2 separate regions of the Homo sapiens genome follow, and region 1 is linked to region 2. Evidence: fine-mapped expression QTL. Tissue or cell type: whole blood. Region 2 holds a variant in brackets; the other region holds the start of a gene. Each region is shown on its reference strand, or each on the opposite one.

Region 1 (5,388 bases), not on the chromosome of region 2:
ACTCTGGAGTCAAAATGGGGCTACTATGTAGGAAAAAAATGAGAGAAAAATGAGAAGGCGAAAGTATTTTTTATAATGCTCAAAGGGGTACATAAATTATTTCTTATAATTTTGGGGGAAATTGACAACTTTAGATTATGGACAATAAAATATTTAAAACAAACACAGTTAACGTATTTCCAGTCAAAATTTTTATTCTCTGAAAAGTTTTCCCTTAAAGAAAAGAAAACAAGCTGCTGAGCAGTGGTACTGTTTAGCATTGCTGACACGGCTTAACTTAACACGTTCACATCAGGAATTAGCTCTAGAATTCTTCTAAGTACAGCTGCTCATACCTTCATGGTACATGGAGGTAGAATTGTAAACAAGTCTTTGTCCCTGTTTCCTTCTACTTTACCTCAGGTAACTCCATTTTATGTATCATTTGGAGAAAAAAAAAAGACTATCCATAGAAAAATGTAAAATCAAGAACCATATTAACTTGTGAAAAGTAAGAAAAGTAATTCAAGAGTAAGAAAAGTAACTCAATCCAGATAAATGTTTAATTTTCAGAAGGTGATGACAGAAACAAAAATGTTGCAACTTTATAAAACATTGTATTCTCAAAAAGTATTGCATTTTGCAGGATTTTGTTTTCTTCTTGTCTTTTCTGAGATAGAGTGTTTTCAGATACCAAAAAGAATAATAACCACTGAAAATATAGCTGCTTTTATTACTATAATGCAATGCACTTTTAACTTTTTTCAGTAAATTTCCCTTGCTTCTAATACAATGGAAAAATCTGAGCTATTTATTTATTTTAATTCTGATTGTATGGCTCCTTTATTAGGAAAATAATACGCATTTTCAATGAACAAATTTGCATTGTTGACTAAATAATATTTAAAATTAATATATTGTAATAATTTTGTACTTTAAAATTTAACACTGTATAGATAGGTAAAGAATGTATGAATTTAATTTTTCATAAGATTGGTATGTTTTCATATTAAACTTTTCACCTCCAACATTTACAAATATCTGGAAGTTTTATACTTCTAGAAAGTTAAAGAAAGATGATTCAAATAATGATGGACCCTTCAGTAAGTGGAAAAAGTACATTCGGTAACACTAGCAATCAACCACGCAGCCTACAGAAAAATGATTCACCACCACCCATATGCAGTTTCACCTTAATCTACCACATGTGGAAGATGCTCTCAACTGTGGAAACAGTGTGAATTACAGCCCCATCTTCAGCATAAAAGACATGCATACATACTGTTACACTAGAAAAAAAGGAAGCCTTTTATGGAAGAAAATTACCAATTTTCTTATTTAAGTCTTTTTTTCTTTAAAAATAATTAATGAACACTAGCAGCGTAGCGAGTCTTAAATTTTGCCCTTTCACTTAAAATTTAAACCAAAGCAAATACACTTACCTATTATACCAGATCCTATAATCGAGTTGACAACATTAAAAAGAGCAGCAGACTGACAGGTTTTCTCTTTATACTCATGTTCAGAAACAAGGGTTTCTCTGTCATCTAAATCTCTCTAATAGATAAAATAGCAATTATAAGCAAATACTAGTTCAGAAAATTAGAAAAGTAACAAATATGTAATGCAGGATACTAACACGATTTTCTAGTAATAATAAGTAATGTCACTAATGAAAATAAAATAAATGCCGGGATAACAGTAATAAAGAATAACAATAACAGCTAGTAATTCAACAGAGCTTGGTAAGCAAACTCCATCCTAAAATTTCCAGATTACAGCTGCCCCAGCTGCTAAGTACAGGATCTGTTAGGAATTCAGTGATGTGATTTTGTGAAATTAAAGTGCCTGCTAAGAAAAAAAAAAAAAAAAGTCAGATTAAGGCAAAACTTTTTGTCCCAGAGAACTTTTCGCGGTGCTAAACCAAGAGCCCAGGTGAAGGTAGGTGACCTGACCTGTTGCAAGGTGAATGAAATTTCCGGACAACTGGCTTCAGAACCTGCCTAGTCGCTAGTTTTACCTGCGGCGGGATGACAGGCTCCTGCCTCTGGTAGCCCATGGCTGAGCGGTGGTCCTCAGCAGGTGGAAGATGCTGGGGCTGGGTACGGATTCGCACCCGGCCAGCCTCCTCCGCCACCTCGCACACAGCCGAGGTCCGCGTGTAGCCGCAGAGCTGCAGGGAGCCAGTTCCACGGGCGCCCCCTGCTCCCTCGGCAGGCCGCGAGGGCTGCAGCCCCAAGATCTCTAGGCTGTGGCAGCCTGGGGCGCTTTTCCACCGGAGTTCGCCCAGACAAATGTATTTTTCCTCCGGAGACGGAGATGCTGCAGGATGTTTCTGATCCGGGCAGCCCTGTCTCCCCGCCTCCCCCCTTCACACCCCCGCCTCCCTGAGAGAACAGGGAGAGCTACTCTTCCCTGGAGCTGCAGAGGACAACTTGTTCCACCCACGCTGCCCTGCCCCGATCTCACAGAGTTATGACCGCCTCGTTGCAGTCCGTTCCTAAGTTAGCTTCTCCTTTGCTGGGGTCTGAAGCCCAGGTAAGAACGCAGAAGCACCCTTGGGCCCATGGGCCATCTTCCCTATTAGCACCTCCTCCTCGCTACCCCTCTTCAATGGCAGAGACGACGAGTGAAAATTTGGGACTTTTATTGTAAATGGAAATGGAAAGACTCATAAGAAAATGAATAGCAAAACAAAAAACTTTCCTAGGGTTTTAGCAAACTTGACTACTGAGCATGCTTTGGTCAAACGCTTCCTGGTAACTTTTAGAAAAAGGAGCGATAGAGAAAATGAAGGTGGATTGTTACTGCATTCAGGTAATGAACCTTGAAAAGGGAAAGAGGAGTACAAGGGTTTGGGAAAGGGGTGGCACCTACAGTGCCTGAGCTAGAAAGAATCTTCAATGACCACCTATTCAGTCCTCTTACATTACAGATGAAGCAACAAGCCCAGAGAGTATTCAATATCAGAGACAGAATGCATGAGACAACAGTTTCAGGGGCAATAAGAGCGGTGATATGCCATCATACTTAACAAATTCTGCCTTCCCTTGATATCCATAGGGGATTGGTTCTGGAACCCCTGCAGATACTGAAATCCAGGAATGCTCAGGTCCTTGATAGTAAACAGCATGGTATTTACATGTAACCTAGGCACATCCTCCAGCATACTTTAAATCATCTCTAGATTATTTATAATACCTAATACAATGTAAATGCTATTTACTTGTTGTTATACTGTATTGTTTAGGAAATAAGAAAAAAGTCCATATGTGTTCAGTATAGACACATCCATCCTAGCCCTAACTACATTTTTGATCTGGGATTGGTTTAATGCATGGATGCAGAAGTGGGGATATAGAGGCCAACTGTACCTAATTAAAGAGGTTCTGTTTCATACATGTTTACTTATAATTAAGAAAAAAAATTAAAAACCGTGGGAAAACAAAAGACTTATAAACTTTATATACACTCTGCCATCAAATGTTAACATGCTGTCATATTTTCTTCAAATTGTAAAAGTAAACACAATGTCACAATAGGAACCCCCTTGACCTTCTCCATTCCTTTCCCCAGGCCTTCAGCCCTGGAGTCATCGGTTCATCAAGTTAGTGTTATCTTTGCTATTCATACTTTGTATTTTAATCCGTTCATTTATAGCCATAAACAATATATAACATTGGCTTTTGTATTTTCAACATTTACAAAGATGGTGCCATATTGTACATGTTATTTTTCCACTGGCATTTTTGTTTTCAGCATGTATGATGTAGATATATGCAGATTTTTTTTTCATTTTATCTAACAGTTAAGTCAGCCTTCCCCTACTGAAAGATATTAAGGTTGTTTCTCGTTTTACACTCTTCCAGAGCATAAAAGTGACAATTTCTCTAGATGTAGAAGTGTTAGGTAGTAGGTCATGCACACTTTCAACTTCATTATCATTATTATTATTATTGAGATGGAGTTTCGCTTTTGTTGCCCAGGCTGGAGTGCAATGGTGTGACCTGGGCTTACTGTAACTTCTGCCTCCTGGGTTCAAATGATTCTCTTGCCTCAGCCTCAGGAGTAGCTGGGAATACAGGTGCCTGCCACCACGCCCGGCTAAGTTTTTGTATTTTTAGTAGAGATGGGGTTTCACCATGTTGGCCAGGCTGGTCTTGAACTCCTGACCTCAGGTGATCCACCCTCCTCGGCCTCCCAAAGTGCTGGGATTACAGGTGTGAGCCACTGTGCCTGGCCTTCATTAAATATTTTTGAATTGCTTTGCAAATTGATAACATGAATTTCACTTCTACCAACAGAGGTGAAATTCTTGTTTTTCTACATTGTCTGTAACACCAGGACTTACTTAATCTATTTTTTAAGTTTAATTGTTCTGCTGGATTTTTAAGTGGTGTATAATTATTGTATAGATTTGTATTTTATCCTAATTTACATTGAGGTGGAAGATCTTTTATATAGTAATTAAATATTTCCATTGTTCTGTTTGTGAATTTCATTTTTTTTTGCTCTTTTGATTTTGGTTGTGAATTTTTTCTATTGATTTGTAAGCATAATTTATATATTTGGGGTGGCAACCCTGTGTCAGTTATATGTTTTGTACATATCTTCTCCCATCTTCTCTCTTTCAAATTTTTTTTTAATTCTGTGAAGTTACAGTTTTAATATTAGTAATCTTAATCCTGATACAAGTGCATTGAGAAGGAAAAATTATAACCCTATTTTACTCAAAAATATATATATGCAAAAATTCCAAGGAAAATATTAGCAAATTGAATCTGTCTGTTCACGAAAAGTTAACAATATCATAAAAAAGTTGAATATAGTCCAACTATGAAAGGATGGCTTAGTTAACAAAAAGTTTATAAATATAATTTCCAACATTAGCAGGTAAGAAAAAGCCATGTTATTATTTCACTATATTCAGGAAAAACACTTGATAATGTTGAATTCTTGATTTTAAAAAAACTTTGTAAATCAAAAATATAATACAACTTCCTGATAGTGATAAACTATAGCAAAGTATTTTCGTTATGGGGAAGTTTTGGAAGCATTCCCATTTAATCAGAAGTGAAAAAAATCAATGATTGTGACTTTTATTTAACTTGATATTGGAGTTCCTAAAGTAATAAGAAATAAAAGAGAAATCAGAGGTATGAGAATTGGAAAGCTAAAAATAAAACTGTCATCATTTTTAGATGATAAAATTGTTTATATAGAAAAATCCAAAATAATCTAAGAGAAAAAAATTAGAAATAGAGAGTTTAGAGAGCTGATTAGTATAAGATTAGACTAAAAATATATTAATTTCTCTACAGCAACAGCAAACAACTAGATATTGTAATTAAAAAATATATAATAGTGTCAGAGAATATCTAATACTAAGGAATAAATCCAACCAAAGAG
Region 2 (5,388 bases):
CTGAGGTCTGGCAAGGTCACACATCGAGGAAATGGCAAAATCAAGACTAAAAGCCAGCTCTTTGGATTCTCAATTCCCTGCTCTTTCTGACACTTCACTCTTCCCTCCTGTCAGGTGAAGAGAGAAGCCAGATGGTTTGACAAATGGTTCTCGTTGCTGTCAAATCTGCCTTCTTTCTTTGCTCAGACAGACAGTTCTTACCTTCCCTTTTTCGGGGGACTGGCGGAGGTGGGGTGAGGAGAGAGGTAGGAAGGTGGATGAAGGAAAAAAAGAAGCATTTTATTGCTTCATTCTTTATGTAGTAGTGATGGCCAATAAGTTCTTTTTTTCTCTGGCAAGAAGCTAAGTAAAGGCAAGGAGTAATCGTCACCTTGAATTTAGAGCACATAGAGGCCTAGAAATGGCAGGCTGTATTAGGAGACAACATTGATTTCATATATATTCATCTCTGAAAAAACATGTTTAAGATGCCATATTCATAAATACTAATAAGGCTGTCTGATTCCAATTTTCAGGTGAGATTAGCATTTTATTGAGTATTTTATCTGTCAGATTCAATGCTGGATGTACCATCCTCCCAGGCTTATTAGCATAATTGCTGTGCTTAAGCAACAATAAAAAAATCAGCAGTAAAATAGCATTTAGTGCAGGCAATTTGTTATCAAAAGCTTTTACTTAAGGACAGCTCCAGCCTGCATTTATTAGCAAGTTAGGGTTATAATTTATTTTTATTTTGAAAAACAAAAGTGGGAGAAAGATTTGGCTTTTTTGTTTTGGAAATAATAGAGAAATTAGAAAGCATTGCCTCTTTGGAAAATTGTCCACATCCCTTCTTCCTTTGCCGAAAGCAGGCTGTGATGGGAATAGATTCCACTTGTGAGCGACATTGGCTCAGACAAAAAGTTGCTCTCCTTGGCATTGGAACAAACGGGTAGTAACGTCCCTTTATGCTTGTACACACATTTCCAAAACACTTTCAGATCTCGTTTGTTGCTCAAACCTCACACCAGTCCCGTGAGGTCTCCATTCTTAGAAATAGAAAACCAAGTTGAAATGACTTGTTCCAGATGAGGCAGTTGAGTGGCAAAGTGGAGGTGTAAAAACTAGTCTTCCAGCCTCCAGTCCTGTCTCAGCATTGCTCCCCTTCACGTCGTTGTCCAGAGCTCCTGGTGGAGCCTTGGCCTTTTCCATATGTACACGTGCACACACACACACATACACACAGATCTGTGTATCTACACCTGTCTATACACATACGTGCACACCTATGCACACACATCTATGCATACATACATACTTTTTCTTTTCCTAAAAGTTAATTATGTACTCTTGCATTTGTTTTTCATTTGATGTCCGGGTTGAAATACTTCTGCCACATGAACTTCTCTTGATGCCAAATAGCCTCTTAAAATCAATCTCTCTCTCTCTCTCCACCCCCCACCCCCCACCCCCACCCCCCCGCCCCTCTAGCTAGCAACTGTATCAGGAAAGCACTTGTGATTACCATCTGTTAAGGACCTGGAACAAAATAAATGATGTTATAAGTTTTTGTAGGGAAGATAGAGATAAGATTTTAAAATATGGAGATTGGGAAATCATTTTTCTTCCTTATTTCTTAGGAAATGTATCAGAAATAAATAACATTAAATTGATGCCTTTTAGTGGGTTTTAGGCTTCAATTATGGGTAATAATTTTCAAATTGAGAATAAAGTTTTGAGTGAAAATGGACAACTGAAGCTTCTAAGCTTTGAGAGGAGTTATTTTAGCATTTTAGATTTTCTTTTCTCAGTAAATTCAAACAAAGATCATACAATCATTGAATCATAGCACGTCTAAAATCCAAGGCTCTGTGCTGGCCACTGTGTGTTTTACAGACTAGCTCAGACGTGGCTATGAGCCCCAAGACATGTTTAAACTATTAGAGAGGATACTAACGATACATTAATAATGTTCTTGGTTTTGACAGAATATTCTAGAACAGGAACTCTAGTAGGATTTTTGCTTATGTTACATCATTGAAATTTAAATTCACTCAATTATTTATTGACTAAATATTGAGCACTTATGTGATGTTCACTCTTGTATTTTACATACATCATCTCATGTAATTTTTTAACAATCATATGAAATATGATCTGAGATAATAGTCAGTACTGTTATTATTGTTCTCATCATTAGATGAGGAAATTGAGACTAAGTAACTTGTCCAAGTCATTCAGCTGGTAAGTGGTAGAACTGCTGTGGTCTCCCTGTAAACACATGTTTTTTTCATGGTACCACTTGGCAAAAAACGAATAAGCAGGTACATACGTAGACAGATAGTGCTAATGATGATTAGAGAACCTCAGAACTCATGCAGAACCTGGATGTTTAGAGAGAAAATGGAACTTGAAATCAGACAGGTGTTCAAACCCTACTATGCTTCTTAGTGTTTGTAAAATCCTCAATTTAAGGACCTCTTAGGATTTCGGTGTCTTCCTGTGAATAAAGGATTATAAAATCTTTCTCTCAATATCATAAT[G/C]AGAATAAATTACAAAATGTATGTGAGTGTCTGCAAAGGTACCTAGTTCATGGTGGGAGTTCACCCTATCTTGGAAGTGCTCATAAACATGCAGGGTTTTTTTTTTGAGACGGAGTCTTACCCTATCGCCCAGGATGGAGTGCAGTGGCGCAACCTTGGCCTCCCGGGTTCAAGTGATTCTCCTTCCTCAGCCTCCCGAGTAGCTGGGACTATAGGCGCATGCCACCATGCCCGACTAATTTATTTTGTATTTTTAATAGAGACGAGGTTTCACCATGTTGGCCAAGCTGGTCTCGATCTCCTGACTTCAAGTGGTCTGACTGCCTTAGCCTCCCAAAGTGCTGGGATTACAGACGTGAGCCACCATGCCCGGTTCAACATGCAGTTTTGTGTACTGTTTAGGGACAGATGCCGAAGCCACATTGCTTGGGTTTGGATCCATCCTACCACATAATATCATGTGACCTTGGACAAACAACTTCACTTCTAGTGCTGTACTTTCTTCATCTATAAAATGGGCTTACATCATAGGGTCCTTGTGAGGATTAACAAAGTTAGAATGCGTAGAGCATGTAGAACAATGCTTGGCACACAGCATGCCGTGCTTCAGTGGTAGCACTTACTATTCCATTATACTACAGCCACCGAGAAGGACAGGTACACAGTGAATAGTTTAGGACTGTTCATGTTCCCGGCCTCTTCACTCCAAGAGCATCAGCAAGTTTAGTTTAGAACATAGGAGTTGTATTTACACAGCTACTAATGACCTTGGAAAAGTTCTTGGCTTCTCTGTCCTTGACCTTTGTTTATCTGAACGAGTAAACTTCAGATGACAGAGTGTGTGGGGAATGGAATGCATCCGCATCCTTGATAAGCTGCCCTAGTGGAATGTTGCCATGTGGCTACTGAGGGTCAATTCACTGGTCAAAGGTGGCCTGCTGGTTGGTATTTTTTCTGTGTCTTCCGGGCAAGTTCTGTCTTTCCTCAGTCTGCACATGCCTGGGTCTGTCCTCAGAGCTCTCTCCCATTTCCCTCTTCTCTAGAAAGCATTGATATAATGGGGCCACCTCTTCCTTGGACTGTTTCTGTAGCATCAGAAGGAGGTGGGTGGGAATTTGGCATACCACTTTTTGAAAGGTAATACATTCTAACATATGTATTTCACCCACCTTCAAAGAGTAAGAATACACTGAATGATACTTAATTTTAAAGATGTGTTGCTGAGGTGAACTCTAAGACGAACAATTCTTCAGAATCTTTTACTTTCTTGGGCTTCTTGTCCCAAACAACAATTATCTTTATAAAGCCTGTGTGTGTATGTGTGCGTGTGTGTTTGTGAAACTTCCTGGAATTGGTAGTGTTGATTTTGAGATGTTTCTTTGGCTTATTCAAAATATAAACAGAAAGGCTAAAGTGTTTTTCATGTCATTAAGAATGTCTTTATAAGAAAGGACATTGGCCGGGCGTGGTGGCTCTCGCCTGTAATCCCAGCACTTTGGCAGGCCCAGGCGGGTGGATCACGAGGTCAGGAGATCGAGACCATCCTGGCTAACACGGTGAAACCCCATCTCTACTAAAAATAGAAAGAAAAAAAAATTAGCCGGGCATGGTGGTGGGCGCCTGTAGTCCCAGCTACTCGGGAGGCTGAGGCAGGATAATGGTGTGAACCCAGGAGGCGGAGCTTGCAGTGAGCTGAGATCATGCCACTGCACTCCAGCCTGGGCGACAGAGCGAGACTCTGTCTCAAAAAAAAAAAAAAAAAAAGAGAAAGGACATTAAGATGATACCTTACCTTGTGTGGGGGGCTTGTAGCTTTCAAAACACTTAAGTACCCATTTTCTTATGTGTGCTTTATGACATCTCTATGATGTAGGCAAGGCAGGGTTTATCATTATTTCCCTTTTAGAAATGGTGGATCTGTGGTTCAGAGAAGTGAAATAAGTTTTCTTAAAGCAGTTCTGGATGCAAACCCAGAACATTTGACTCTAGGGTGCTTTCTGCTCCACCACCCTGATTTGATTGTAAGGAGGTAATTCTTACCAAGTACTGTCAGATTATATAGAGTTGTAATATATCTTAAAAATGCCCATTTTAATTTTCTTTAAACAGATCAGTTAAAAAGTTAACTGTGATTTGATACCATCTTGTTTCTCCCCAAGTTTAAACAGCAATGAGTCTCTAGGACCTTCGGTTAAACCAGCATGTGTTTTTCAAAAATCAAATGTCAAAGCATTTCGTGAACCTTGCTTTAATGAACAAGAGAAGTGAAGGTACAATTCCTTTTTTGCATGAGGTAATTAGGAAACAGGATGTGCAAACTTGCTATATGAATTTAAAGAGGAGCACTTCTACTGATGTACAAACTGGATGGGCATATTACAGAGGGTTTCATGCTGGTAGAAATTTTAAGTGAAATAAGTTCTCATTAAGCATATCAATTATTTTTGGACTGTGTGAAAACTTAATCTGTTTCATGAGTTGGATCTAAGGTGGTCAATACCTCTACACTCCAAAAAACAGAAGCATGACTCAAACATCTAGTTCTGATTGCAGAGTGCCTTTATCTGGAAGACTGGACATGTCGTCAGAATATAGAGCAAGAGGGATGGAATATGCTCTTAAGTTTCCTGATGACTTAAGGGTCTGCACTATACTTGCTTGGGAGGTGGGAAGGATTGAATTCTCTTTGGAAAATGCCTTTGAATCTCTTACACACATGGTACCCAATAAGCCTAGTGCTGTATTATTAGCATCATGTACTAGAGTATGGTTTACCTGACATAGGTTTTGGAAATCTATTTCTTTTATTTACACTACATGGTTTCTTAGGTGGCAATTCTCAGTGAATTACCAGCTTCCTGATAGT

Evidence for each region. PIP is the estimated chance that this variant, and not a neighbour inherited with it, causes the effect.
Region 1: SLC38A11 starts here. The variant in region 2 is the best candidate, but not a certain one, in a credible set for the expression of SLC38A11 in whole blood (TOPMed, PIP 0.57).

The regions. Positions count from the first base shown.
Region 1 is chr2:164,953,210-164,958,597 of GRCh38, forward strand. It overlaps SLC38A11 (solute carrier family 38 member 11), which reads right to left and starts at 2,316. Exons shown (of 12, transcript NM_001351537.2): 1 at 2,000-2,316; 2 at 1,422-1,536. The coding sequence starts at 2,038.
Region 2 is chr3:188,287,379-188,292,766 of GRCh38, forward strand. All of the region lies in intron 2 of LPP (LIM domain containing preferred translocation partner in lipoma), which reads left to right. Among named protein-coding and RNA genes, the nearest start is that of FLJ42393, 110 kb to the left of the region's middle. RefSeq lists an enhancer at 3,263-3,557 and a silencer at 3,263-3,557. The variant G/C (reference allele first, on the strand shown) is at 2,523.